3 separate regions of the Homo sapiens genome follow, and regions 1 and 3 are each linked to region 2. Evidence: fine-mapped expression QTL. A gene starts in region 2. Each other region holds a variant in brackets. All regions are shown on one strand. Distances are between the middles of the regions.

What was found.
Region 1: its variant is fine-mapped to the expression of ASGR2 in whole blood (TOPMed, PIP above 0.99).
Region 3: its variant is fine-mapped to the expression of ASGR2 in whole blood (INTERVAL, PIP above 0.99).

What each region holds. Positions count from the first base shown.
Region 1 is chr17:7,251,398-7,259,539 of GRCh38, forward strand. It overlaps CTDNEP1 (CTD nuclear envelope phosphatase 1), which reads right to left and starts at 337. Exons shown (of 8, transcript NM_001143775.2): 1 at 1-337. ELP5 (elongator acetyltransferase complex subunit 5) reads left to right here and starts at 818. Exons shown (of 8, transcript NM_203414.3): 1 at 818-1,199; 2 at 1,373-1,433; 3 at 1,521-1,601; 4 at 3,186-3,406; 5 at 5,460-5,641; 6 at 7,191-7,286; 7 at 7,429-7,529. The coding sequence starts at 1,154. RefSeq lists enhancers at 1-527, 528-1,116, 985-1,204 and silencers at 65-184, 255-464, 1,235-1,474. The variant C/T (reference allele first, on the strand shown) is at 5,007.
Region 2 is chr17:7,109,968-7,118,142 of GRCh38, forward strand. It overlaps ASGR2 (asialoglycoprotein receptor 2), which reads right to left and starts at 4,855. Exons shown (of 9, transcript NM_001201352.2): 1 at 4,648-4,855; 2 at 4,150-4,343. The coding sequence starts at 4,273. RefSeq lists enhancers at 2,701-3,201, 5,007-5,793.
Region 3 is chr17:7,134,309-7,142,483 of GRCh38, forward strand. LOC105371512 (a long non-coding RNA gene) reads left to right here. Exons shown (of 3, transcript XR_934191.3): 2 at 2,930-3,490; 3 at 6,370-6,455. It overlaps LOC124903910 (a long non-coding RNA gene), which reads right to left. Exons shown (of 2, transcript XR_007065600.1): 1 at 8,167-8,175; 2 at 7,941-8,135. It also overlaps the pseudogene RPL7AP64. Among named protein-coding and RNA genes, the nearest start is that of ASGR2, 24 kb to the left of the region's middle. The variant A/G (reference allele first, on the strand shown) is at 4,008.

The DNA of each region.
Region 1 (8,142 bases), 140 kb after region 2:
GAGTGGCAGGAGAGGCTGCAGAGAGGGGCACGGAGCGGGCGGCTCAGAAAGCCACCCCTGGCGAGGGTAAAGCCCAGCGGAACGGGGAGCTGGGGGACAGGCGTGGGCAGCCCGCGGGGGCCCACATGGGCTGGGAGTGGCACCGACGGCTTCGGGGAGGTTGCGGGCCGAGACAGGTAGGGCTAGGATGGGGTCCTCCGAGACCTGGAGGGAAGGGGAAGGATAATTGGGGGAGGGGGCAGTGGGGGAGGGGGCTAGGGAAAAGGGAGGAAGGGAAAAGGGAAGGGGAGGGGGGGAAAGCAGAGAGTGGCCCGCTGCGCAGGCGCGCTAGGGGGCTGCTCGCAGGAACGGGGAGGGCGGGGGCAGCGGCGCGCAAAGGGCCGCGGCAGCGGAGAACGGGCCTGCAGAGCGAAGGAGCAGGGAAGGAGGGGGAGGGGGAGCCGGAGGGCGCAGAGCGCTGGGCCGGAGCGGCCTCCCCCTCCCCGAGCTCGGGGGTCCTTTAGCCGCTGGGGACCGGGGCTGCAGCCTCTGCAGCTGGGTTTCCCACTCTGACAGGCGCCATTTTACCGTCCAAAGGACTCCCTCTTCCTGTCTTTCCCCCTCCTCTTCCCCTTTGACACTACTTCCGGTGGTGACGTGTATTCGCTTCACCGGGACTAAGTTCCTCCTGCGCGGTCTATGGCGGGTAGGTATAAGGAAAGCCAAAAGCACTCCAAGCGAGGCTGCAGTATTGCGCACGCGCAGAAGGTGGCCGCGGGGCGGGGCCTGAGGCGAAGCAGGCCCCGCCTCAAACTGCGTGGGCGGGGAGAGTGACGTCACTTGGCCCGCGCTTAGGGCCCTCGCGGGGGGCTTGTGGGTCCTCCTCCCCCTCCCACTGACAACTGCCCCAACTGCTCTTCCCGCCCCGGTCACAGTGAAAATGTAGACGGGGTCGTTGTCCGTACGACTGTGCGCCAGGGCTCGGGGAGGGGCGCCCTCCGCGTGAGCGCCCCCCTGGGAATATTGAACATAATCACCTCTCATTCCAGACTATGTTAGGTCTTAATGGTGGGAGGACGCCCGAGTGCTCGGCCCGTTTCACCCCGAGGAGGAAGGACACTGGGTCATGACGCCATCAGAGGGCGCCAGAGCAGGGACCGGACGCGAGTTGGAGATGTTGGACTCGCTGTTGGCCTTGGGCGGCCTGGTGCTGCTTCGGGGTGAGAGCCAGAGGCACGGTGGCGGGGCGGGGGGTGCGGTTCGGGCCTGGCTGAGGGGACGGAAGTGGGCAGGAAGGGCCAGGGGTCACAGGCTAGGTGTGGAAATCGCGACGGGTTCGCGAAGGCGGTAATCCCAGCGCTCTCATACCCTTTATCCGTCCCTCGCTCTGCAGATTCCGTGGAGTGGGAGGGGCGCAGTCTCTTGAAGGCGCTTGTCAAGAAATCTGCACTGTGGTGAGTATCCCACAGTGTCTCCCCGGCCTACCCTGGATAGGGCACCTGTGCCCACTCTTTGACAATCCCTTCTCATCTCTGCCTTAGTGGGGAGCAAGTGCATATCCTGGGCTGTGAAGTGAGCGAGGAAGAGTTTCGTGAAGGTTTTGACTCTGATATCAACAATCGGTAAGTACCAGTTGGAAGAGATTTGATTAAATTTGAGACCTATAATGCTAAGGAAATTTCTTTACAACAAGCGCAGAACCTGGTATGTAGTAGCAGTTCCTTAAATATTCATTGAAGAATTGGATATGGATCTTTCAGGAGGCAAGAATTAATAAGAGGAGTGATGAGTATTTGGGGAGTCCAAAGCAAAGATCATAGAAGTCGAGAGAGAAATAGCCTGGAAATAGGGAGAACATGTGGGAAGGGTATTGCAGTAATCCGTTAATCCGGCTTCACTCTTTAAGGTACATATGTACCGAGCACCAACTATCAACCAGGTGCTGTGCAAGATACTGGAGACGGCAGTGAGTGAGACCTGTTCCTGACCTAATGAATTTTAGGGAATAATGGTAGGAAGTGATAGAGGCCTGGTTTAAGGCAGTGGCAGTAGAGATGGAAAGTTTAGAACACATGTAAAGGACTTTAGTGGGTAGAATTTCCAGGATTTATTGACTAATATGGGGGAGAAGAAAGTATTGAGATAAGGAAGTTCCTAAACCCAGCGGCATGCCTGATCAGGAGACATTAAGAACCATTAGTAGGATGCTTTCTACTTCCTAGTCCCGGCAACTCAGTGGATGATAATAGTAGTTTACATCTTATCTGTTGAGCCTCCAATTTTGCATCAGCCATTGTTGTGATAGAGGCGGTGGTGTATGTTCAGATGGCATTCCATGGCTGGGCGCGGTGGCTCACGCCTGTAATCCCAGCACTTTGGGAGGCTGAGGCGGGTGGATCACCTGAGGTCTGGAGTTCGAGACCAGCCTGACCAACATGGAGAAACCCCATCTCTACTAAAAATACAAAAAATTACCTGGGCATGGTGGCACATGCCTGTAATTCCAGCTACTCAGGAGGCTGAGGCAGGAGAATCGCTTGAACCCAGGAGGCAGAGGTTGCAGTGAGCGGAGATCACGCCATTGCACTCCAGCCTGGGCAACGAGCGAAACTCTGTCTCAAAAAAAAAAAAAAAAGCGGGCACTCCACAAGAGAAGATAGAAAAGAGATATCTGGGAAAAAAAGTTCTGCTACCTATGCCAGTCTCCCTTTCCTGAGCTGTTTTTTCTGTAGTTGTTACTTCTTGACTTAATTCTTGACTTTCTTTAAGCTGTTCTACAGGCAGGACCAAATCTCACGTCCTCTGCTTTCTCTTTTTTCACCCAGGGTGATAATCTTTAGGTGCCACACACAGGAAATATTTGATAATGGTGATAACTAACATTTATCAGGCATATACTATGTGTCAAGCACTGTGCTGAATGCTTAGAGGTTGGCATCTCATTTCACCAATGAGGCAACTCTTAGAAATAATGTATCAGTTAGCTGACCTTGGGCAAGTAGCAAAGCCAAGCTTGGAGATCAGGCTGTCAGACACCAAAGTCTGTGCTCTCAATCACTGTATGCTCTCTCTCAGTAATTATCTTTCACTAATATTTAGGATATTCATAAAAATTGAGAAAACAGCCATAAAGATCAGAGGATGAACTTTGTGATCCTCTCGGGGGAAGGGGCAATATTATATTGTGTCTTATTTTCCCTTTGCAGGCTGGTTTACCATGACTTCTTCAGAGACCCTCTCAACTGGTCAAAAACTGAGGAGGCCTTTCCTGGGGGGCCGCTGGGAGCCTTGAGAGCCATGTGCAAGAGGACAGATCCTGTTCCTGTCACCATTGCTCTCGATTCACTCAGCTGGCTGCTACTTCGCCTTCCCTGCACCACACTCTGCCAGGTCCTGCATGCTGTGAGCCATCAGGACTCTTGTCCTGGTGAGACCCCTCCTTCATTGTTTCCCCTCATACATCTCCCTCTGCCAAGGAGTGTGCCCCTTTTCCTTTCTACCCTAGAATAAACATCTGGGTTCTCCAGTCAGACCTTTTTTCATTTTTTTGACTTTTTTGTCTGTTTTTTTTTTTTTTTACTTCTCCTTAATGCCATCTACCATTTGCTTTTTTTTCTCCAAGTTATTTTTTTACTCATTTGTTTCACTCATTCATTCATTTAACAAATCAATAGTAAATATATACAATGTGTCAGGTACAATTCTAGATAATGGCAAAATACAGACTGACTGTAGCTGGGTCCTTGCCTTCCAGGAGCTCGAAGTCCCATAAAAGATGGAGATAAGTAAACAGGCAGTTACAAGATGGTCTGATAAAGGCCATGATGATACAGGCATGCACAGGGCACCTTAAAGAAGGGCACTCTTGGCCGGGCGCGGTGGCTCACTCCTGTAATCCTAGCACTTTGGGAGGCCGAGGTGGGTAGATCACAAGGTCAGGAGATCGAGACCATCCTGGCTAACATGGTGAAACCCCGTCTCTACTAAAAATACAAAAAAAAATTAGCCGGGCTTGGTGGCGGGCACCTCTAGTCCCAGCTACCCGGGAGGCTGAGGCAGGAGAATGGCGTGAACCCGGGAGGTGGAGCTTGCAGTGAGCTGAGATGGGCCACTGCACTCCAGCCTGGGCGACAGAGCAAGACTCCATCTCAAAAAAAAAAAAAGGCACTCTCTTGAAGAGCAAGAGGTCATCCAGGCAAATTTGGCCGGGCAGGGGCACTGAGACTAGCCTTGAAGTGCACTGTGGGTACTCGAATGGACTTAGGAGTCAGACGCCCAGCTTTGTATTAAGGTGCTTGATCTCTCATTGCTTCACTTTCCCCTGTATATGGGGGAAGGTACAAGGGAAGTATTAGGATGAACCACTATATTGCCATTTCTTAGGTTAAAAGTTGTTAAATATTGTCTGGGCGCAGTGGCTCATGCCTGTAATCCCAGCACTTGGGGAGGCCAAGGCGGGCGGATCACCTGGAGTTGGAGACCAGCCTGGCCAACATGGTGAAACCCTGTCTCTACTAAAAATACAAAAAATTAGCTGGGTGTGGTGGTGCACGCCTGTAATCCCAGCTACTCGGGAGGCTGAGGCAGGAGAATCACTTGAACCCAGGAGGCAGAGGTTGCAGTGAGCTGAGATCACGCCACCGTACTGCAGCCTGGGTGACAGAGAAAGACGTCATCTCAAAAAAATAAAAACAGTCCGGGCGCAGAGGCTCATGCCTGTAATCCCAGCATTTTGGGAGGCCAAGACAGGTAGATCACGAGGTCAGGAGTTCAAGACCAGCCTGGCCAAGATGCTGAAACCCCGTCTCTACCAAATACAAAAATTAGCCAGGCGTGGTGGCACGCGCCTGTAGTCCCAGCTACTCAGGAGACTGAGGCAGTATTGTTGAGCCCGTAGCAGGGGTTGCAGTAAGCCAAGATTGCGCCACTGCACTCTAGCCTGGGCGACAGAGCAAGACTCCATCTCGAAAAAGAAAAGAAAAAAAAATTGTTAAATGTCAGTGATTTCATACAGTTTGACCTAAAAA[C/T]GCTGACCTTTGTAAGGATTCAAACATTGTGTTAAAGCGTTTAGCATAGTACCTGACACTCTCTAAATGCTCCCAAAAAGGGAGGCAGAGAATTGAAGGCACTGACTGAGATCTTGGGAAGTTCCAGAAACTACAAGTACTTCCGTGTGTAAGAGATGAGGCTGGAAAGTAAGTGGACACCACCTGCTGGAAGCGTTCGTTCCATCCTGAAGGCAGGAGCTGCTGAAGAATAGAAGTTAGAGCGGTGCCTTGATCAGCTTTACATTGGGATGATAGAGGAGATTAAGGTGTGGGCTGGAGGAGGCTCAGAGCACGGTAGTGAGATTGGCCAAGGGACGTCAGGATTTTGGCAGCACTGTGATGGAATTGTGAGGCTCTCTCTTCTTCACTGTTAGCTCCCAGGCCACCAACCTGAATGCTCCCTACTATCCTACATTTCTTGTCCTCCTCTAGGTGACAGCTCCTCAGTGGGGAAAGTGAGTGTGCTGGGCTTGCTACATGAAGAGCTTCATGGACCAGGCCCTGTGGGAGCTCTCAGCAGCCTTGCTCAGACTGAGGTGACCCTGGGCGGTACCATGGGCCAGGCCTCGGCCCACATCCTGTGTCGGAGGCCCCGACAGCGCCCAACTGACCAGGTCAGAAGAACCAACAGAGAAGGACTGGAAACGGGGGACAGAGAAAGGGGTGGCACGATGGGAAGAACAATGAAAATGCTGATGTTTCAAGGAGACTTTAAAAACAAACTTTTTTAGAGATGGGGTTTCACTGTGTTGGTCAGGGTGGTCTCAAACTTCTGGGCTCAAGTGATCCTTCCACCTCAGCCTCCCAAAGTGCTAGGATTACAGACGTGAGCCACTGTGCCCAGCCCTCAGTGAGACCTTTTTTTAAAAAAAGCTGATTTAGGTATTTCTCTGTTTTCTATCACTCACTTCATTTAATCCTCTCAGCTATGGTTAAGGTAGATTGTTTTATTATCACCATTTTTCAGGCTGGAAAGCCAGTCCAGGGAGGGTTTTATTCCCTTGGAGTTTTTTTTTTTTTTTTTATTGGACAAGGTCTCACTGTTGCCCAGGCTGGAGTGCTGTGGTGCAATCATAACTTACGGCAGCTTTGACCTCCCATGTTCAAGTGATCCTCCTGCCTCAGCCTCTGGTGTAGCTGGAGGTGGGAGCACAGGCATGTAGCACCACATCCAGCCAGCTTTTTAGTTTTTTATACAGATGAGATCTCACCCTGTTGCCCAGGCTGGTCTTGAATAACTAGGCTCAAGCCATCCTCTGGCCTTGGTCTCCCAAAGTGCTGGGATTACAGGTGTGATCCACTGCACCCGGCCCAAGGAGGTTTAAATTTAAGTCACTTACCAAGGTTATAAAGTGTAAGTGGGGCCCAGGCGAGGTGGCTCAGGCCCATAATCCCAGCACTTTGGGGGGCCGAGGTGGGCAGATTGTGAGGTCAGGAGTTCGAGACCGGCCTGGCTAACATGGTGAAATCTCATCTCTACTAAAAATACAAAAATTAGCTGGGCATAGTGGTGGGTGCCTGTAGTCCCAGCTATTCGGGAGGCTGAGGTGGGAGAATCACTTGAACCTGGGAGGCGGAGGTTGAGGTGAGCCGAGATCATGCCACTACACTCCAGCCTGGGCAACAGAGTGAGACTCCGTCTCAAAAAAGGAGTAAGTGGGCTGCTCTGCCTAAGGAGTCGCCATCCTTTTATTCCTTTACTTCCTTAATCAACTTGCTTTCACTTTTGAAAATAAAATAGAGGCTGGGCGCAGTGGCTTACACCTGTAATCCCAGCATTTTGGGAGGCCGAAGTGGGCAGATCACCTGAGGTTAGTGGTTTGAGACCAGCCTGGCCAATATAGCAAAACCCCATCTCTACTAAAAAGACAAAAATTAGCTGGGTGTGGTAGCACGTGCCTGTAATCCCAGCTACTCGGGAGGCTGAGGCAGGAGAATCACTTGAACCTGGGAGGCGGAGGTTGCAGTGAGCTAAGATCACGCCACTGTACTCCAGCCTGGGCAACAAAGCCAGACCCTGTCTCAAAAAAAAAAAAAAAAGTTGAGGGCAGGAGCTGAAAGCAGTCAGTTAAATAGGTGATTGGGGGCTGAGGATGTGAGGTCCTGGAGTCTGTCTAGTTTCTTCAGTAAGATGAAAAAAACTCTTTTCTTTTTTCTCTCCAGACTCAGTGGTTCTCCATCCTTCCGGACTTCAGCCTGGATCTCCAAGAGGGGCCCTCTGTAGAGTCCCAGCCCTACTCCGATCCTCATATACCCCCGGTATCTAAGAATGCCAAGGCCAGAACAAGGAAATGTAGTTTAGTATCTGGTCACGGGAGAGAAAATAAAAGCTGCAGAGGTTGGGGGTGGGGTCAGGGATTCTAGGGATGGGGCAGAGTGGCAGCATCCTTTGTACCTACAGGTGGATCCCACAACTCATTTGACCTTTAACCTTCACCTGTCCAAGAAAGAGAGAGAAGCCAGAGATAGCCTGATCCTGCCCTTCCAGTTCAGTTCTGAAAAGTAAGGTTGGGACCTGGGTACGTGGATCCCTGAGTAGATCCCAGCATCTGGGCCATGGAGAGGTTGGGGCAACAGGTTATTGATTAACCTGACTTTATAGGGACTGAAGTCCACCTCCAGAGACAAGTCCAAGTTCTTGATCCACCCATTCCCCCTATAATGGCAGAGGACCTTTATGTCTCTTTTCTCTCCCTTATACCCTTGGGTCACAGCTCCAGTTGTCCCCAGAGCACCCTGGGCCTGGGCTGAGCCAGACCAGACCCTTGGGAGGTGGCCCTATCCCTAGGCAGTGGTGCTAGGAGGACAGAAGGCTATATGGGCGTGGCAGAGGCTGGTTAACAAGGGCTTAGTACACGCTTGCTGTTCTGTGCCCAGTATGTGGGCGGATGACGCAAGACTACAAGATCCTTGCCCTCAAGCTGCTAGGAACTTACGGTTTTATTAGGAGAGCAGTACAAGGGTATCTATCCCAGTACCAAATGGTGCTTCAGCTCTAACATGGAGGTCAGAGAAAGGGACTTGGACCAATAAAATGACATGGAGGCCTAACAGGTTGCCTGAATGAGAGTCACAGTCACCTGGAAGAAAGTATCCAGACCCAACCTGTTAGCTA
Region 2 (8,175 bases):
ACCTGCAAACAGAACACCTTCTAGGCCTTGGACCCTGACTCTGTGGACTTCCTTGTCTTCTCATTCCTATCACCCCCCGACCCAGCAGGACCACATCCTGGGGAGGCTCAGTCAGGGGCCCAGAATCTTCCTCCCCAGGTCACTTCCTGCCACTGTCCTGAGTCAGACACTGCCCCTGTAAGTGACTGTCCATAACTCTTCATCTTTTTCACACCAGTGACTTCCACCTTCCCCACTGCAGCCACACTCAGGACCCCATTTGACCCAGGGAGGCCTCTGACACCTCCACTGCCCACTCCCGCTCTGAGCACAGCCCCACCCTCCCTCTCACTGCCCCCACCCCTTCCTCCAAGGCCTTTGCATTCCTCTCCATCCAGAAGCGCTCCATGACCACGGTGTTCCCCACCAAGCTGGCCCTCCATGGCTGAGTCCCTGACTGCTGTCTTCAGCACCCTCCACTCAGAGGGTCCTGTCCTGCTTCCCAGTCCGACTTATCAACTCCCAATGCTGGGTCAGCCCAGCAACGTGTCTGTATATCCACCCTGAAACCAGACTGCCCACAGGGTAGCCCAGCTGTGCCTCCAGGTAGCTCTGAGATCATGCACCAGCATTCAATTTCTCCATGCTTCCATTTTCTCGTGTGTAAAATGGAGATCACAGTCGTAGCTACCCGATTGGATTGCTCGGATAATTAGATGAGTTAAAATATGTAATGTGCTTCTTAGGCAAAAGTTTGAACATAAAAGACAGGGTCTGCCCAAGATGGGAAGAGTTCTTCTCTCCCCAGAAACAATCAAAACAAAAACAGACAACTATAGAACATGGCAGCTTTCAAGACTCTGGACATCAGGCAAGGAGGAGTAAAGATCCCTGAGGGATAAGAAGCAAACAACAGGAACCCTCCGATCACCCCAGCTTACTGTTTGGAGAGAGTCTGCAGGTTACAGGCCAGGAAAGGGAAGTCCAGGCAGAGCCCAAGAGACTCCCCACGTTGAGGAGATGGAGCTGAGAGTCCGAGGAGACCAAAACAATTAAGAGTTCAAACGATCAAACTGACTCTAAGTTGCTTAACTGCATCCCGGAGCAAAGCTCAAGAACATTTAGAGGAATACAAAAATATCCAGCACCCAACAAGGTGAAATTGACAATGTCTGGCAGCCAATCAAAGATTACAAGGCATGCAATGAAACGGGAAAACACAATGCATAACGAGGAGGTTCATAAATATCAAAAGAGATCCAGAACTGACACGGATGCTAGAATTAGCAGGCAAGGATGGTAAAACAGATATTATAGCCATATCCCATTATGTTCAAAAAATTAAGTAGAATTGTGGAGGATATTTAAGAGTCCCCAGGTGAACTTCTAGAGATAAAAACTACAATGTCTGAAATGAAAAAACACACTGGCCAGGCGCCGTGGCTCACGCCTGGAATCCCAGCACTGTGGGAGGCCAAGGCGGGCAGATCATGAGGTCAGGAGATCGACACCATCCTGGCTAACATGGTGAAACCCCATCTCTACTAAAAATACAAAAAATTAGCCAGACGTGGTGGCAGGCGCCTGTAGTCCCAGCTACTCGGGAGGCTGAGGCAGGAGAATGGCATGAACCCGGGAGGCAGAGCTTGCAGTGAGCCAAGATCGCGCCACTGCACTCCGGCCTGGGCAACAGAGCGAGACTCCGCCTCCAAAAAAAAAAAAAAGAAAAGAAAGAAAAGAAAAAACACACTGGATGGAAATAATGGAAGATGAGAAATGCGTAAGAAAAATTTAGGGCCAGGCACTGTGGATCACATCTGTAATCCCAGCACTTTGGGAGGTCGACACGGGGGGAATCACTTGAGCCCAGGAGCTCAAGACTAGTCTGGGCAGCATGGCAAAACCCCTCTACATGGCAAAACCGTCTCTACAAAAAAAAATTTTTAATTAGCCAGGTGTGGTGCCACATGCCTATAGTCCCAGCTACCTGGGAGGCTGAAGTGGAAGGATCGCCTGAGCCCAGGAGGTGGAGGCCACAGTGAGTTGTGACAAGCTACTGCATTCCAGCCTGGGCAACAGAGTGAGATGAGAGAGAGAGAGGGGAGGGGAAGCGAGGGAAGGAAAGGAGGGGAGGGGAGGGGGAGGGGAAGGGGAAAATTTTAGTTAACTTAATGAACAGCAATAACTCTATAAAATGAAACACTGGGAGAAAAAAGAATTAAAAAATGGAAAGAGAATGAGTGAGCTGTGGGACCCTTAATACATGCATAATTGAAATCTTTAAAAGAAAAAGGGGGTAGCAGAAAAAAATCAAGTGCTGAGACAAGTGGAAGATGGGCCCCGGTGAGCAGCTGATCAGTGTCAGCTCCCATGATGACGTTCCCCCAGCCCCCACCACCCGGGCTGCTGGAGGGAAATGCGGTGACTTTGCTACATCCCTTCAGACGGTCCCTCACTGGTGTCCCTCAGCCCATTCGCGTGAGCTCACTCTCCCATTAATTTCAGAAATCCTGGCCTCTCTCCAAGCCTCCTGCTCAAACTCTAAATTCTGTCACCCTCAGAAGATTCAGCAGCATCCCGTATTCTCTCTGAGTGTTCACTATGTACCGGGTGCCGTGTGGGCACTGGAGTTGCAGAGGAGAGTGAGGCGGACAGGGCCTCTGCCTGTGGGGACACCGCCTGGTGGGAAGTCCAGCCAGCCCCCTACAGAGAGAGGAGATGCTACTGGTGTTCCTGAGTGGTCCTCGGGAGGGACCTCCTATCCCTCCTGTCCCCTGCCCTGCCCTGCCCAGCACCGGCCCTCCCTCGGTTGGCCAGCCTCAGGAATGAGGAGTCCCTCATTCCAGCCCAGCTAACCAATCCCCTTCCTAAGCTCCAAGCCCCTGCTCCTCCTGCCTCCATGGAACCCGGCTCCACCACCAGCACCCACACACCTGACACTCCTCCATTCCTGGCTCTTGCCCTTCTGCCTAGCACTGCTCAGATCTCTCTCACCTTAAAATCTTTTCCCACCAGCCTGGGCAACATAGCAAGACCCCATTTCTCTAAAAAATTTTTTTTAATTTGCCAGGCACAGTGGTGCACACCTGTAAGTCCTAACTACTTGGGAGGCTGAGGTGGGAGGATGGCTTGAGCCCAGGAGTTCGAGGTTGCAGTGAGCTATGATCCTGCCACTACACTCCTGTCTCTAAAAAAAAAATGTCCAAGATACTTAGGTCCTTCAGTCAAGATTTATTACAGAAGGATCCAGGGAAGGGTCTTGGGAGATGAGAGGAGCAGGGATCTTCCAGGATCTCTCTGTGCTCACGTCCCCCACCCATCCCAACTCACCCCACCTCTACACACACACACACACACACATACAATCACATACACACACTAACACACACACTCACGCAACACACTCACACACACAACATACATAACACACTCACAACATACACACACAACACACACACTCGCACAACATACACACACGCACAACATACACAACACTCACACAACACACAAACATACATACACTCACACAATACACACACACAACACACACACAACATACACAACGTACACACACACAACATACACACACTCATACACAACATACATACACACAACATACACACAACATACACACACTCACATACACAACATACACTCGCACAACATACACACATGCACAAGATACACACACAACACACAACATACACTCACACACAAGATACACACAACATATACTCACACAACATACACACACAACACACTCTCACACACAACATACCCTCTCACATACACGACATACACACACACAACATATGCACGCTCTCGCGCACATATACACACACACAACATTCACTCACACACACACACAGAGTCCCAGCTGAATCTGCATTCCTCATATGCACATACGTGCACACGCACATACGAGGCACATGTGTTCTTGGGTTGGGAGGAGAAGGGCAGGCAGTTATCTTCCAGATCTCCCCACACCTCTGGCACATGCCTTTCCTGGGGTCCTGGGGTAGACAGGAAGGTGAGGTGAGGGAACAAGCGGGGGTGTCGGGCCCTCCTCAGTCCCTGTTCACAGAGTGGGTGCGGCAGAGACCTCAAAGGGACAGAGCAATCATGAGCTGAGACAGAGGGGGAGCAAAGCCGCAGAAACTGCACACTTGCCTTTCAAAAATGGATTTCCTCTCCTGGGATTCAGCCTGCGAGTGCCTGGCCCCTCACCTTGATGGAAAGGATGGTCATTTTCCTCCGAGCTCAGCTGCTGGATATCTTGAAAGTCCTTGGCCATGATGGGGCCCGGGCTGGAGCTGGAGCTGGAGCTGGGCTGGGCTGGGCTGAGGTTGCTCTGAGGGCTGGGGCTGGGGCAGAGGTGCAGATTCACGTGGAGGTTGATGGTGGGATGGAACGCAGGGTCGGAGGGGTTCGGGGTGGTGGCCTGGGTAGGATCTGAGGTTGGCAGGGCGTTTGGGATGAGGTTTGAAATCCCGCTGGGTCCTTTCCCTTCTCAGGAGACCGCTTGGGCCTTGACCTGGCCAGGAGACCCCTCCCCACGCTCATGGACCCGACCACCCACAGCTTCCCATGGGGTCCTCCCCATCCCTGAACCAAGGCCTCCTTGTTCCCAAGCATCCTCGTCCCAGTTGCCTCCCCAGCCTCAGTTACCTGTGAAAGGTGTGGAGAGCGGACACCTGGCTCCCGCAGGCAACCCTGGCCTTGGCCAAGGAGGGGTTAAAGCCAGGAGAACTGGGGCAGGTGGAGCTCACAGGGGAGAGGAGAGTGGAGGAGGGGCTGGTCCGGGCAAGGCCTGCACTGGAGGGTCTGAGTGTCCAAGCTCTAACCTGGCACCTCCTGGCCTGGGACTTTGGACAGTAAACAGAAGAGGAAACAGAGCTGTAACTCATTTGTGGGGTGGGGGCAGGGGACGGGGCTATCTCTGTTCTTATTCCCAGAGAGGGGGGTCCCCTGGGCTGCGCTCAACTCCACACGCCACTCACCCCACTCATTGCACCATTTGGAAGGGGTGCCAGGCCAGGAGGGGCTGGGGTGCAGTTTGCCGTTTCCCTCTCTCCCTCCCCCTCTCACTTCCTGCCTCCGAATTTACCAGAACTGTGGGTGTCTCCAAATATCCCTGACCAGGATCACAGCGACCAGTTCTCTACTCTTGCCCAATCCGGCATCTGAACCACAGACCCCAGCTTCCTGTGGGCTCGGCCACCAGACTCTCAGCTCTGGCCCAACTCGCTTCACTCTCCTGGAGAGTAAAGCCTCTCAAATCCAGAAGCTTCAGCAGGAGGAGGAAGGGGCTTTGCAGAAAAACAGCTCTCCTCGCAGGAGGAATCCAACCTCAGAGAGCCCCGTCCGGCCCAGACCCTGCCCCAGCCCAGGCAACACAAACACTGTCCTCAGGCCCAGCCACTGCCCTAAATTCTCCAAGGTGTTTCTTCATTTATCACAGCACAACACCCCCACGAGGCAGGACTTCTGTTACTCCCATTTCACAGGGTTCGGAAGCGGAGCCTCGGAGAGATGAGGCAACTTGCTCTAGGTGGTGGCCCAGGTGAGTAGAGAAACTGGCAAAGCAAAATGGAGTAAAGAGGGGAAAATAACATCATAACAAAAGGTCTGGCCGGGCACGGTGGCTCACGCCTGTAATCCCAGCATTTTGGGAAGCCGACGTGGGTGGATCACCTGAGGTCAGGAGTTCGAGACCAGCCTGGCCAACATGGTGAAACTCTGTCTCTACTAAAATACAAAAATTAGCCGGGCGTGGTGGCAGGGGCCTGTAATCCCAGCTACTCAGGACGCTGAGGCAGGAGAATCGATTGAACCTGGGAGGCGGAGGTTGCATTAGCCAAGATTGCGCCATTGCACTCCAGCCTGGGCAACAAGAGAGAAACTCCATCTCAAAGAAAAAAAAAAGAAAGAAAGAAAAAGAAAAGAAAAGGTCTTCATGGTCCTACGAGGAAGACTGGCTTCCATGAAGCAAGGAACGTGGCTGACTGTCTACACTTGCGCTAACAATAGCTCGGGAAAGAAAACACAGTTTTTGTGCATGATTTTCTGACCCTCACCAAACTTGGGCGGATGGCTACGGGCAGGGTTTCTTATAAAGCTGCTCGTTTCCCCGGGTGCCGAAAAGGAATTCAAACAGAGGCCTTTTCTGTTCTTGTAACTTGCTGACCCACATGGGAAGTAGCCACCCCCCCAGTACCCTGACATTCCCACCCAGCCACCAGGCAGCAGCAGCCGCTGGGCTCTCTGACTGCAGCCCACAGCGAGAGACGAATTTCATGCTGTGATCCAGAACATACACACAAGCACCCGCACACACAGGTGCATTTGTATGTGTTACTTTCTCCTGGATCCCCAGTGCCTGCCACACAGTAGCTGCTCAACAAGTATCTACTGAGTGAGTGAGTGAATAGAATAATGCGTTTGGAAATACACGGTTGACACTAAAGTTTGATGGGACAATGCTCACCTTACTACGTGCCTTCTGTTGAGTTTCCCAGTCCATTAATGGGTCACAACTCAAAGTCTGAACAACACTGCTGTGAAGCCCCCATCTTAAGGGGCATGTGGATTTAGTCCTGAGATACAGGTAAGAGCTTCACAGATGGATTGTCTACTGCATGTCAAGCTTTGCCAACTGCCAACCAGGGATGGGGCCATCCTCATTGGCCACCCCTTTGACTGAACCAATTCCACGTTTCAGGGCTTGTCACTTACACCCCCACTCACGGCACTACAGGGAGAGAAGGGACAGAGAAAGCCAGACTCATCTGCGTCCTTCTCTTTCTCCCTATTTGAAAATCATTTTAACTTAGAAGTTAACATGTACTTGGACTATTTCTGAAGTTTCCATATTGTTGGAGGTTTTCTGTTTTGGGTTATGGAATCCTATTTTCTTTGATTGATTTTTTTTTTTTTTTTTTTTGAGACAGAGTTTCACTCTTGTCACCCAGGCTGGAATGCAATGGCGCGATCTCAGCTCACTGCAACCTCCACCTCCCGGGTTCAAGTGATTCTCCTGCCTCAGCCTCCTGAGTAGCTGGGATTACAGGCATGCACCACCACGCCCGGCTAATTATTTGTATTTTCACCATGTTGGCCAGGCTGGTCTTGAACTCCTGACCTCAGGTGATCCGCCCATCTCAAACTCCCAAAGTGCTGGGATTATAGGCGTGAGCCATCGCGCCCGGCCTTATTTGGTTGATTTTGATTTGGGGTTTATTTGTACCTCAGACACAAAGGTTAGATTGGTCATATTCCTTACTTCATGACACTAGGTCTTCCTCAGAGGTCTGAGCTAAACCTTTGTCCTGTTTCGTTCTTCCCTAGCTCCCATCCTGTTTCCCCTCACTAATTCTATACTCTCTACTCTCTATAGGCAGCCAGAAGTCTGAGTGCCCTGACAGTCCCCACAGATGGTGCCCATCAATTTCTCCCCTCACCACATGTGCAAGTCACACCACTCAGCCAGGGGTAGAGTCTGTTTCCCCTCCCCTTGAGTCTGGGCTGGCCCTGTGACTTGCCTTGACCAACAGAAAGCACTAGAAATGACACTCTGCCAGTTCTGGGCCTGGACCTCAAGAAACCTGGTAGCTTCAGTTTTCAATCTTGGAAGTCAGTCACCATGCTATGAGGAAGTCCAACTATCCTGCCAGAGAGAGTCCTGGGGGATAAGACAGCACATGGAGAGAGAAAGAGGCCACACAGAGGTGCACTGAGGCCCCAGACATGTGAGCAAAGTCTTCTGGGAGTTTCCAGGGCAGCCCAGTCACCAGCTGATTGTATCCAAGTGTTTCACTCCAACCAATACCCCGTGGACCGCCCAGCCTAGCCCTGCCCAAATTTCTGACCCAGAGAATCTTAAGAAAAAACAGTTGGTTTAAGCCACTGGAGCTTTGGGGTGGTTTATTATGCATCGGTAGATAGCTGAAACAATATATATTACTAAATATGTAGGTACCCTTATAAAATATGTGATGGGGTTTGCATGTCTATCTGTTCTGTATTTACATACACAGAACTTTCATATATCTCATTTGTTTCTGATCTTTTTCACTCAACAAGAAATTTTTTAGAGCTATTTGTATTGCTATTTGTTACAATGGATTGTTACATTGCTATTTGTTTATCTGGTTTGTTGCTATGAACTGCTGCACAGTATTCAATGGTGTGTATCCA
Region 3 (8,175 bases), 24 kb after region 2:
ACCCGCCCTTCTCTCCCCAGCACTTCCCTGCCCGACTCCTGTATCAGAACCAAATGGTTTTCTGTCTTCTCGACAAGATCACAAGGTTCTTTGAAGCCAAGCACAACCAGAGGGTCCTGGGGGGTGGGGGTGGGGGGGCACCATATGCCCATAGCGTGGCAGCTCTTCCCTGTGCCAGAAGCACAGAAATGAAGGGACCCTGCCTTCAGGAACAGCACAGTTAGGAGGAAAATAAGGCTGGGCACGGTGGCTCATGCTTGTAATCCCAGCACCTTGGGAGGCTGAGGCGGGCAGATGGCGAGGTCAGGAGATCGAGACCAGCGTGGCCAACATGGTGAAACCCCGTCTCTACTAAAAATACAAAAAAGTTAATCGGGCATGGTGGCGCACACCTGTAGTCCCAGCTACTCTGGAGACTGAGGCAGGAGAATGGCTTGAACCCGGGAGGCTGAGTTAGCGGTGAGCCGAGATGACACCATTGCACTCCAGCCTGGGCAACAAGAGCGAAACTCCATCTCAAAACATAAATAAATAAATAAGAGGAAAATATACAGGTTCACAAGCATGGAGTGAGTGGGACCCCAGAAATAAGGTGTCCAGGGAGGGTTTTCTGGAGAAATGGTGCCTCAGCCACCCCTGGAAGAGCCTCAGTCCAGAACCTCACCCTCCAGAGTTTCCACCTACACACCTGCCTGTCAAAAGACAGCAAACTCCAGGAGAGCCACTTGCCACAAGTATATAGGATCTAATATGTTTGTTTGTTTTCATATAAAATTAATTTCAAATTAAATATTCCTGGATGATGAGGAGTTACCGAATGGGTACAAGGTACATTTGTTTGGGTGATGGAGATTCTAAAAGCCCTGAGTTCACCACTCCACAATCTATGCATGTCACAAAATTACACTTGTTTCCCATAAATTTATAAAAATAAATAAAGCTGGGCCGGGTGCCGTGGCTCACGCCTGTAATCCCAGCACTTTGGGAGGTTGAGGTGGGTGGATCGCCTGAGGTCAAGAGTTCGAGATCAGCCTGGCCAACATGGCGAAACCCCATCTCCACTAAAAATACAAAAAAAAAAAATTAGCCGGGCACGGTGGCGGGCGCCTGTAATTCCAGCTACTCAGAAGGCTGAGGCAGGAGAATCGCTTGAACCCGGGAGGTGGAGGTTGCAGTGAGCCGAGATTGCGCCATTGCGCTCCAGCCAGGGCAACAAGAGCGAGACGCGGATCTTTTGAGCCCAGGAGTTCAAGGCTGCAGTGAGCCATGATTGAGGCACTGCATTCCAGCCTGGGCGACAGAGCCAGGCTCATCTCAAAAACTAAAAATAAAGAAATTCTGACACATGCTACACCATGGATAAACCTTGAAGACATTATGCTGAGTGAAATAACCCAGTCACACAGGGACAAATATTGCATAATCCCACTACCTAAGGTAGTCAGATTCATAGAGACAAAAAGTAGAATGGTGTGGTCGCCAGGGGGAGGGGTTGGTGGGCGGGGAATGGGGAGTTGCTGTTCCATGGATTTAGAGTCTCAGTTTCACAAGATGAAAAGAGTTCTGGCCGGGCGCGGTGGCTCACGCCGGTAATCCCAGCACTTTGGGAGGCCGAGGAGGGCGGATCACGAGATCAAGAAATCCAGACCATCCTTCCTGGCCAACATGGTGAAACCACGTCTCTACTAAAAATACAAAAATTAGCTGGGCGTGGTGGCGGGCGCCTGTAGTCCCAGCTACTCAGGAGGCTGAGGCAGGAGAATCGCTTGAACCCAGGAAGCGGAGGTTGCAGTGAGCCGAGATCACACCACTGCACTCCAGCCTGGCGACAAAGCGAGATTCTCTCTCCAAAAAAAAAAAAAAAAAGATGAAAAGAGTTCCATGGATGGTTGCACAGCAATGAATGTGCCGCGTGCAACAGAAACGCATACTTAAAAACGGTTAAATTTTATGTGGTGTGTATTTTACCACAATTTTTTATGTAAAAGGCAAAGTTTTAAAAATTACTGCAATCAGTATTAAACCTCATTTCATATTTCTAGTTTACTCTTTCGCCCTTAGGAAGTTGGGTTTTTTTCTTTTTTCTCTTATGTTCCCAACATCAGGATAGCAGCGCCACCGTGTGGTCACAGCTGCAGGTGCCAGTCTGAAAGAAGAGAGACTCCCCTGCACCCCAACTATTTTTTAATACAGGTTGAGCGACCCTAATCCCAAAATCCAAAATCCGAAAGGCACCAAAATCCAAAATTTTCTGAGCCACAAGTGGAAAATGTCACACCTGACCTCATGTGACAGGTTTCAGTCAAAATGCCATCGAAACTGTTTCATGCACAAAATCATTTAAGATAATATATAAAATTACCTTCATAGCCTGGACAACATAGCAAGACCCTGTCTCTACAAAAAATTTAAAAATTAGCCAGGACTGGTGTTGCACGCCTGTACTCCCAACGACTCGGGAGGCTGAGGCAGGAAGATCACTTGAGGTCAATCAATCTGCATTATACTTCTAAGTAGCTGAAGTGAAACATTAAACAGTAAAGAGATCATTCTTACATAGCTAAGAGTATTCAATTATTCAGCTCCTGAGAACTATTTGGCTACACTTACTTATTATCTTTCTTTTGCCAACTGGTAAGACATCCTAGCCTGAATCACAAAAACACTTTCTGGTTCACATCTTAGAGTCGAAAAAGGCTTGCGAAGCCCCTAAAGGTGTTGAGGCAGCTTGGCCTGAGACCGTGATAGCTTCTGTTTCATCCCCAGATCTATTACATGGAGTTCAGAAACCAGGACGATTGCATTTATAAGCCCCAAATTTAAAAGATTATTTGAAAAAGAGCTTCTTGAGTTTTACTCTTGATACACTAAATGCAATCCACAGCCTCTCTGCCCTAACAGACTTTCGTGTTCCTTCCCTCTTTTATAGTAAAATTAGGAAGTGGGGAGACGGGACAAGTAAGTAAGGGAATCTGCACAGGCTGAGCAACCCCACCCTCAGCCTTGCTGAGTTCTCTCCACCCAGAGGACACTGTACTCCTGCTCTGGGAAGACAGCGCCTCCCGCCAGGGGATTCCGCCAACCACCGCTCCCTGCAATCGGGGTTACCAGTGATGATTCTTCCCCCAGCATCACCCTACGGTGTCTTGGCAGCCTGCCTCCTTCACAGACTGCCTCGAGAGTCCCTCAGAGCTATTTCCTTAAAGACCAAATGCGAGCATATCTTCACTGACGGGGTTTCAGAGCCTCACTTTGCAAGTTTTGAGGCAGAGGCTCAAACTAATTTTGCTGAGAAGGACAGGAGAGCTGAGAGAAAATCAAACAGAACGGCGGCTCTCCTCCCATTCATGGCATGTAATGCTCTGGGCCCAGCTACATCTGCCATGGCCTCCAGGGACCTGCTGGAGGGGTCTCCCAGCCCCACCTGGTATAAGCCAAGCCTGCTCCAGACTCAGGATCTGCCCAGAGGGCTGGGATCTCACAGCCTGAGGTAAGCATGAGTCAGTCTGAATGTAATCTACCCTCCCTACACCCCTTCCCAGCCCCAGCCTCTCTGAGGGGTCTCATAGCCACCCAGCCTGCCTGTGACCTTTGCTGGCTATAGCTTTTCTTCCCATTAACTTTTTTTGTTTTGTTTTTGAGATGGAGTTTCACTCTGTCGCCCAGGCTGGAGTGCAATGGCGCGATGTTGGCTCACTGTAATCTCTGCTTTCCAAGTGCAAGCAGTTCTTCCCCCTCAGCCTTCCAAGTAGCTGGGACCACAGGCACCCACCACCATGCCCGGCTAATTTTGGTGTTTTTAGTAGAGACAGAGTTTCACCACGTTGGCCAGGCTGGTCTCGAACTCCTGACCTCAGGTGATGCGCCCGCTTCGACCTCCCAAAGTGCTGGGATTACAGGCGTGAGCCACCATGCCCGGCCCCCATTAACTTTTAATAATAAAACATGGTGGCCAGGCGCGGTGGCTCACGCCTGTAATCCCAGCACTTTGGGAGGCTGAGGTGGGC[A/G]GATCACGAAGTCAGCAGATGGAGACCATCCAGGCTAACACGGTGAAACACCCCGTCTCTACTAAAAATACAAAAAAATTAGCCGGGCGTGGTGGCGGACGCCGGTAGTCCCAGCTACTCCGGAGGCCGAGACAGGAGAATGGTGTGCACCTGAGAGGCGGAGCTTGTGGTGAGCCGAGATTGCACCGCTGCACTCCAGCCTGGGCGACAGAGCAATACTTCATCTCAAATAATAAAATAATAATAATAATAATAAAAACATGCTGCCTGATTACAGGAACTTAAACTTGTTTTGTTTACCCAAGCTGACATGTAAAAGTTACTAATAACTTCTTTGTCTAGGCAAGTTAGCAAATGACTTTGTAAGCACTGAGCAGCTCCCCTTAACTGTTTAAGTGGGAAGCCAGCCGTCGCCTACCCCAGGCAGGGGAGGCAGGACTTCTCCAGTGGCTCAGGGGAGACTGCCCTTCTTTGCCAGTTTTGGTTTGCAGACAGGTCACTGAAAGGTGGGGCCAAAAAGCTTCTGTGAAGCAAAGAAATTTGAGACCCTAGTCCCTTTCTTTTGGAGATCTAATGTCCTTAGAACCTCTGTGATGAACAGAGGCTCTAGCTGAAGTCCACTGACGGGGAAAGGCACCAAAGGGCCCGAGGGAAGCCCATCATGACTGAAGAGGAAATAGAACAAGTGACCCTGTGTCTTAGTCAGCTTGCACTGCCATTGCAAAACACCACGGACTGAATGGCTTAAACAAAAAAAAAACATTTCTTTCTCACAGTTCTGGAGGCTAGGAAGCCCAAGGTGAAGGTACCGGCAGATCCAGTGTCTGGGGAGGGCTCACTTCCTGGTTTACAGACAGCCACCTTCTTGCTGTGTCCTCACGTGGATGAGAGAGCACACTCTGGCCTCCTTCTCTTCCAACAAGGGCACAAATCCTATCGTGGGGACCCCACCCTCACAACCTCATCTAAATGTAATTATCTCCCAAAGGCCCCACCTCCAAATATCATCACACTGTGGAGTAGGGCTTCCACCTATGAATCCGGGGTGGGGAGGACAGAAACATTCAGTCCCTAGAATCCTGTATCAGTGCTAAGGCCTGGTAGGGTTTGTGAGGGAAGCCGCGTTTGGCACAGGCTGAAGGTGCCCCCTCACCAGATAGAGGCTGAGAAGATGTGCTTTGAGGACCTCTGCTGAGCAGGGCTATGAACTGAAGTGTTTTTTCCTCTGGAGCCCGAGGACACGGTGCAGTTGCTCAGCAGCACTAAGGAGGGACTGGGTGTGCCCTGAGCAAGCTGTCATTGGGGGTTAAAGACTGAAACTGTCACAGCCTAGGTGCCTAGTGGCTTCCGGGACAGAGCTAAGCAGGGCACAACAGGGGTAGACGGTCTGTTCCATTAAGCTTTTGAAGCTCGTTGTCTGAGGTAATACCCAAGGTTCATCGTCTCATGCCAAGGAAATTGAGGATGCAGGCACACACGACGAGTGAGTTTAAGAGCAGAGGTTTAATAGGCAAGAGAAAGAAAAGCTCTCTCTCCTGCAGAGAGGGAGGGGCTCCCAAGTCGGTCTTCTGGCTCCGAGGTGAAATGCACTGGGTGTTATAGGTGAGCTTGAGGAGGCAGTGTCTGATTTGGAGGTTTTGCCTTGTTTTGTTTTGTTTTGTTTTTGAGACAGAGTTTCGCTCTTGTTGCCCAGGCTGGAGTGCAGTGGCACGATCTCGGCTCACCGCAACCTCTGCCTCCCAGGTTCAAGGGATTCTCCTGCCTCAGCCTCCCGAGTAGCTGGAATTACAGGCATGCACACCACGCCCGGCTAATTTTTGTATTTTTAGTAGAGACGGGGTTTCACCATGTTGGTCAGGCTGGTCTCAAACTCCTGACATCAGGTGATCCACCCGGCTCAGCCTCCCAAAGTGCTGGGATTATAGGCGAGAGCCGCCGCACCCACCCGGCCAGGCAGTGTCTGATTTACACAGAGCCCAAAAGATTGCGGGACCAGGTATGCCATTTACATAGTGCAAGAAGAAGCTGGCCGCCCCACCCTAATCTTTTATTATGCAAATGGATTCTCTACCTGGTTGGCATCATGTTGCTGCTTCCTTTACTGTACAGGTGGTTGATAAGGAAAAGGGAAGATGAAGCCTCCATGTTGAACATGCCTGGCCCCAGGTAGCCTTTTCCGATTGGCACGGCTGCCGCCATTCACCCGTTCAAGCTTCCAGCTTGCCTGTCAATGTCTGCAGCTCGATTTTACAGGCTGCTCTTTGTTAGAAAAGAAATGATGTGGGGGCTGCTTTTTGTTAAAAGGGATGCCTTACCGAGGACTCTCTTACCCTCACCAACTGCCTAAGTAATTTCTTTTTAGCTCCCGTATTACTGCATCAAACTATAGCCAGATCCACGGTGACTACAGCGCAGCCACGGCAGGGGTGGCCTCTGGCTGAGCGGGACTTGTTTGCAGCAGCAGCATCTGGTGGCAATCGCAGAAATAAGAAGGCAGTCGAGGCCGGGCACAGTGGCTCATTGCTCATTGCTTGAACCCAGCAGGCAGAGGTTGAAGTGAGCCAAGATCGCGCCACCGCACTCCAGCCTGGGCAACAGAGTGAGACTCCGTCTCAAAAAAAAAAAAAAAAAAAAAAGAATTTCGGCATTTGAGAAAAGGCTTAAGAATCTGGCATTGAACAGGCTATCCAGCCCAAAAGGGACCTCACCTGCTTTGTTGATTGTTGAATGGCCCAACTACATCTGGTTGCAGTGGCAAACGGCTGACCTCCACGAGCAGCTGAAAGTGCCTCCTGCAAGTGACCGACTCATCCAGGCCTTGGACCGAGAAAACAGCTCCTCAACTGCATCAGCTGGACCATGGTACAGACCAGAGACAGGGCAAGAAAAGAAGCAGAGGCTATTGGCCCGTGCAGAGAAGAAAGCTGCCGGCAAAGGGGGCATCTCCATGAAGACCCCAACTGTCCCACGAGCAGGGTTAACCCCGACAGCACCTTGGTGGAGAACAAGAAGCCTCAGCTGGTGGTGACTGCACGTGACTCTCGTCGAGCTTGCTGTCTCTCTGTCTGCGCTGTGTCCTACAGTGGGGTTCCCTTACTGCGTTATCCAGGGGAAGGCAGGACGGAGATGCCTGGTCTGCAGGAAGACCCCAGAAAAGACTGTCACCTTCACACAGGCTCACTGGGAAGACAAAGCAGCTCTGGCTAAGGTGGCGGAAGCTATCAGGACCGATTACAATGGCAGGTGTGACGAGATCCACAGTCACTGGGGAGGCAATGGAACCTCCTTTGCAAAAATTATAACTGAGGAAATTATGACAGTGAAAGAAATCAGACCTAACCGACTCCATCTTGCGTCTAACCTTTAAGCTGTCCTTGTCCATTCCTCGGCGTGGGCTGAACAAACTTCGGGGAGGAATTCAGCTCGTGGTTTGACTCTGAAACAAAATTGATAATAGCCCTTAACCGAAAAGACTCTTCTTGCCTGGGGACCAGTCTGCCTTTGCAAGACTAACAGATTAGCTACGAGATCAGAAATTGTAGTTTAGGGGTCATGCAGACTCTGACTCTAAGAGTCGGAACTTCCCCACATTGCTCCTGGGAATAACATCACTATTGTAAAACCTAAGATCAGTACTTGAGATACTTTTCAGACCCTGCACTCGATAGATCAGCTGACACCACCCAGACTCATAATCTGACCTAACCAGTTCTGCCACCGCACCCAGGAACAGAAGACAGCAAGAAAATCTCACTTTGATCTCCTATGATTCCGTCTCCAACCTGACCAGTCAGCGCTCCTCACTTCCCAAGCCCCTATCCGCCAAATTATCTTTAAAAACTCTGATCTCTGAATGCTGGGAGACTGATTTGAGAAATAGTAAAACTCTGGGCCGTGTCACGTGCGTCCGAGTGAAGAGCCCACCGAACAGGCTTTGTGTGAGCAACAAGGCTATTTATTTCACCTGCGTGCAGGCGGGCTGAGTCCGAAAAGAGAGTCAGCAAAGAGTGGTGGGATTATCACTAGCTCTTACAGGTGTTGGGATAGGCGGTGGAGTTAGGAGCAATGTTTTGCAGGCAGGGAGTGGATCTCACAAAGTATACATGGGTGGGGAGAATTACAAAGAACCTTCTTAAGGTTGTGGGAGATTACAAAGAACCTTCTTAAG